2 separate regions of the Homo sapiens genome follow, and region 2 is linked to region 1. Evidence: fine-mapped expression QTL. A gene starts in region 1. The other region holds a variant in brackets. All regions are shown on one strand. Distances are from middle to middle.

Region 1 (2,996 bases):
CTGGGTGACAGAGCAAGACCCTGTCTCTAACATAGATAAATAAATAAATAAACATTTAAAAAACCTATCACAAATGATACAAAATCAGTTGAGTAGCATTGATGAAGGGAAAGGAAAGATGGGGTGAGCTATCTCTAAACCAAAGAATCATAGTGCAGGCCAGGCCTTATGCTGGGGGCTGGGGTCGTAATGAAGAATATGGCAGTCCCAACAGAAGAGGGAGCACGCATTTACCGACTCATGTGTGCCAAGTGCTGGGCTCAGAGCTCTATCTGAGAATCTCATTTGATCCCCATAACAACTCCATGTGGAAAGAACTGTTGTTTTCAAGCCCCGTTTTCAAATGGGGAAAAGGGTTCACGGAGGCTAAGTAAGCAGCCCATGTTCACACAGCTAGTAGTGGTGGAACTGAGATTTGAACTCAAAGGCCCGGCTTTTAACCACTTCATATTTCATATACAGGGAATGGCGGGTGAGAGAGACCACAGCAACTTCCAGGAACTGTCATTCCTGAAAGTAACTCTGTGTCGCTGAAGAATGTCAGAGAAGAATTATGACGGGCTGGAAGGGGCCCAGTCATTAAAATCTTGAAGGCTATGTTAAAGGGTTTCGACTCTACCCGCGGGCAGGAGGGAGCCACAGAAGGTGCCAGGCAGGGGGGATGGTCTGATCAAGTCTGACTTTTAGAAAGATTATTCTGGCACCAGAACGGGGAGGAAACAGGTCGGGTTAGGAGGCAGCTGCTGTAATGCAGAAAGGTCACGAGGGTGGCGGACACGGTGAGGAAGAGGGATCCGAAGGATTCCGAAAACGGAACTGGCGGGCGGGAAGAGGCCGGACCAGGGTACCCAGCCGCGGAGGCCGTGTGGCCCTGGCTCCCCGCGGCCCCGCCCCGCCCCTCCCGGCGCCCGAATCCCGGGTCCCGGGAGCTGCCGCCTCACCTTGGCCATGCGGATCATGCGCTTGGCTACGTCCAGGTCGCCCTGGTGGTTCTGGCCGATCTCGGCAATGATGAAGCACGGGTGTTGCCCGCCCACCCAGCGCCCGGGACACAGCTCCAGCTCCAGCGGCATTGCAGCGGCTCGGGGTCCAAAGCCTCACTACCAGTCTGGGTCCGGCCGCCGCCGCCGCCGCCTCTACTCTGTTCTGTGAGCAACGCTGCGAGACCCACACGCCAGCCCCGCCACGTCAGCCCGCGGTCGCCGGGCAGCCAATCCCCTAGGCCCCGCCTCTCTCCCGACAGCCAATCGGGGCGGGGGGCGGGGGCGGGGCCTCCCGCGGGAAGGGCGGCGGGGCGGGTCGAGGAAGCTCCGCGGCCCTCTCCTGTGCGAGGCTTGAGGCTTGCTGTCCCAGAGCGTGGTCTCGGACCATCGCGGTATCCGTGCGTGCACCCAGGAGCAAGCATTCCCTGCAGGAGGCGGACGGCTGCCTGCGCAGGGCATAGTCTATGTCCTGCTCTCAGGAGCATGGGGAGAGCGCGCCCTATGGTGTAATGGAAAAAACAGGGTTGCTAGAGTTAGAATCACAGAGCTGGATCGAGTCCAGCCTATGCCAGTCACCAGCTCCTGCTCATATATACGTTACTCAGTCTTCCGGAGCGTTATTTTTGTTTCTCTCTGAAGCAAAAAAATAAAATAGAACTGTGAGATGACGTATAGAAACCCCTGATCACAATACTTGGCTTGTAGTAAGTTTTCAAGAAGTGGCGGAGGTTCCTATTATATGAGAGGCAACAGGTTCGAGAAGTTGCACTGGCTTGTCCAAAGCCATCCAGAAAGCCAAAGCAGAGATGGGACTAGTACCCGGACCTCCCAGCCCCAGGCTCTTAAAATACAATCACCTGGGCGGGCGCGGTGGCTCACACCTGTAATCCCAGCACTTTGGGAGGCCAAGGCAGGCAGATCACCTGAGGTCAGGAGTTCGAGACCAGCCTGACCAATATGGAGAAACCCCGTCTCTACTAAAAATACAAAAAAATTAGCCGGGCGTGGTGGTGCGTGCCTGTAATCCCAGCTACTCGAGAGGCTGAGGCAGGAGAATCGCTTGAACCCGGGAGGTGGAGGTTGCAGTGAGCCCAGATCACACCACTGCACTCCAGCCTGGTGACACTGCAAGACTCTGTCTCAAAAATAAATAAATTAATTAATTAATTTAAAAAATAAGATAAGTTATTTCCCAAAATAAACCTCCTTCTTTCCTGGGAACTAGACTGCCTTTGTAGGACTAACAAATTAGCCACAAGATTAGACACGTAGGAGTCATGCACCTGGAGGCTACAAGATTCTGACCCTCCCCAAATTGCTCCTGGGGATAACATCACTATTGTAAAACCTAAGACCAGTGCTTGAGATATTTTGCAGACCCTGCACTTGATGGATCAGCTGGCACCACCAGATTGATAAACTGGTTCATCTGATCTTGTGTCCCCCAACCAGGAACTGACTTGGCACAAGAAGACAGCCTTGACTTTCTATGATTTTATCTCCAACACAACCAATCAGCACTCCTGGCATACTGGCCTCTCTTAACCCACCACATTATCCTTAAAAACTCTGATCTCCAAGGTGGGGCATAGTGGCTCACACCTGTAATCCTAGCACTTTGGGAGGCTGAGGCGGGTGGATCACCTGAGGTCAGGAGTTCGAGACCAGCCTTGCCAACATGGTGAAACCCTGTCTCTACTAAAAATACAAAATGAGCCAGGTATGGTGGTGCATGCCTGTAATCCCAACTACTTGGGAGGCTGAGGTAGGAGAATCGCTTAAACCTGGGAGGCGGAGGTTGCAGTGAGCTGAGATTGTGCCATTGCACTCCAGCCTGGGCAACAAGAGCGAAACTCCATTTCAAAAACAAACAAACAAAAACCCCAAAAACCTCTGATCCCTGAATGCTAGGGGAAATTGATGTGAGTAATAATAAAACTCAGCCAGACTGCACAGCTGGCTCTGCATGAATTACTCTCTCTATTGCAATTCCCCTATTTTGATAAATCAGCT
Region 2 (2,500 bases), 21 kb before region 1:
CAGGGATGCTCAGCATTAGAAAATAAGAGAGTCAGCAAATAAAGCAGAAAAAGCCAGGAAGTTTCAAGAAGGCCTCCTATAACTCAGTATGAAAAAAGATGAATATTTATCTGTACGCTAGTGTTCATAGCAGCATCATTCACAATAGCCAAAAGGTAAAATCATCCCAAATGTCTGTTGACAGACAGACTTTTTTTTTTTTTTTTTTCCCCCTGAGAGTCTCACTCTGTCACCCAGGCTTGAGTGCAGTGGTGCAATCTCGGCTCACTGCAACCTCTGCCTCCTGAATTCAAGCGATTCTCCTGCCTCAGCCTCCTGAGTAGCTGGGACCACAGGCACGCATCACCATGCCTGACTAATTTTTATATTTTTAATAAGAAGGGGTTTCACCATGTTGGCCAGGCTAGTCTCGAACTCCTGACCTCAGGTGATCTGCCCACCTCGACCTCCCAAAGTGCTGGGATTACAGGCATGACCCACCGCGCCTGGCCAAGAAAATTTCATTTACAGTCACCCTCTTTAGAATGTATGTGCTTCCTCAACTGCTTAGCTCGAATTTGATTTGGTAACAGCAAGACTGTCAAAGGATGTTCAAATTATAAAGTATGCCATGTTTGTTAGAATTTTGGTTATAAAAAAGACTACGCCTTCCCCATAGTAAATGGCCCAAGAAGGGAACCCCCTCCCTCCTGCTCACCGAGATGACCCGCAGGTTGACGTCCTCAGGCTGGAGCGGGTATGCGCTGGTACACTGCAAGAAGCAGAAGTTGGGGTTGAGGGGCTTCACGATCTGATAAACTTGCTTCATGGTGTCCATTGACTGCATCCCACTGGAGATCACCATTGGGCGACCTGAGTAATCCAGCACCAACACCATCAGCACTTTCTCTTTAGAGGTTCTGACTCTCCCCAACACATCCCAACTGCTGGTCTCATCATTCA[A/G]CTGAACTCCACAGACATCTCTTAAAACACTGTGCCAGCCCCTGTGGGGGAACAGAGAGGAGCTTGTTGGGTTCCTGCCCTCGGCCACAGGAAAGGTGGGCTCCCCTCTGCCCCCCGACAGTGTTCTTGAGCAAAAGGAACTGAATTAAAGAGGCAGAGGAATTTCACACTGCCAAGAGGAAAATGAGTATCTTATCTGATTAATAGGTTGTATACCATGGCAGTACAGTAGAATGAGTGCTGATTCAAGAGTGTGAATGAATGTGAGGTGTGGAGCTGCCACTTCTAGCTGTGCCTGGGCAGAGTACTGTCCGTCTCTGAGTCTCAGAGGCCTCCCCTGTGAAATAAGTATCAAGCATCATAATCATGACCTGTTTCAGTCCTAGGAGTGTTATGAGGATCAAATGAAATTGTTCATGTTGTAAAACCACTTTACACGATCATGTCCCACTGCGGTCTCAAACTCAAGCAATCCTCCTACCTCAGCCTCCCGAGTAGCTGGGGCCACAGTAATGCACCACCATACCCAGCTAGGTTTTATATATACTGTCATATCCTTAATTTCTTATAAATTTTAGTTAAAAAATTTTCTAGGACAGGTGCAGTGGCTCACACCTGTAATCCCAACACTTTGGGAGGCTGAAGTAGGAGGATCACTTGAATCCAGGAGTTCAAGACCAACCTGGGCAACATAGACAGACCTTGTCTCTATTAAAAAAAAAAAAAAATTCTTAAAAAGAATTTCTAAATGTCTTATAAAAACTGTCATATTCTTAATTCATTTTCTTTCAAATTAGCTTACAAAAAATGGAAGTACAGGCTGATTGAAAAGAGGTTTCTGGCAGGGCACAGTGGCTCATGCCTGTAATCCTAGCACTTTGGGAGGTCGAGATGGGAGGATTGCTTTAGGCCAGGAGTTCAAGACCAACCTGGCCAACACAGCGAGACCCTATCTCTATTTAAAAAAATGAAAAGAGGCTAAAATTTGTCTTCATGAAATCTGCTGAAAGTGGGCCACCATGAGGGGAGTAAAAATATGAAGGTTTGGACTCCCTTCGATTTTAAGTCAAAAATTAGACACTTACCTTTTTTGGCTGTCTTTTCCAGATAAGGAAAATTATTAGTGTCTCCAGATCCAACTTTGAAAAATGGAACATTCAGTTCATGCAGGAATTCAACTGCCATCTACAAAAATCAAAGAGGGAGCTCCTTTTCACCATTGTCCAAAAACACTGTTGTTATGACAGGCAAGGAATAACATACAAGTAGAAAAACCCCTCATCTTAGGCAGTAGAGGGACGCTCAGCAACTTGAAAGCAGGCAAAGATTTGTTCTCAGTCATTTCATTCAAATGCAAACATTCATTTGCATCCACCCATCCATTAGCCCAACAAACGTTTGGTGCTGGTCTTTGCTGGCTACAGGAATCTGGAAAAGGGCTGGGCGTGGTGGCTCATGCCTGCACTTTGGGAGGCCGAGGCGGGCAGATCACCTGAGGTCAGGAGTTTGAGACTAGCCTGACCAACATGGTGAAACCCCGTCTCTACTAAAAATATAA

What was found. PIP is the estimated chance that this variant, and not a neighbour inherited with it, causes the effect.
Region 2: its variant is fine-mapped to the expression of NANS in whole blood (TOPMed, PIP above 0.99).

What each region holds. Positions count from the first base shown.
Region 1 is chr9:98,054,886-98,057,881 of GRCh38, reverse strand. NANS (N-acetylneuraminate synthase) reads right to left here and starts at 1,150. Exons shown (of 6, transcript NM_018946.4): 1 at 942-1,150. The coding sequence starts at 1,073. It also overlaps a transcript of TRIM14 not described here. RefSeq lists enhancers at 432-551, 1,592-1,641 and silencers at 802-971, 1,052-1,401.
Region 2 is chr9:98,076,545-98,079,044 of GRCh38, reverse strand. It overlaps NANS (N-acetylneuraminate synthase), which reads right to left. Exons shown (of 6, transcript NM_018946.4): 3 at 2,028-2,127; 4 at 698-852. It also overlaps a transcript of TRIM14 not described here. Among named protein-coding and RNA genes, the nearest start is that of NANS, 21 kb to the right of the region's middle. The variant A/G (reference allele first, on the strand shown) is at 943.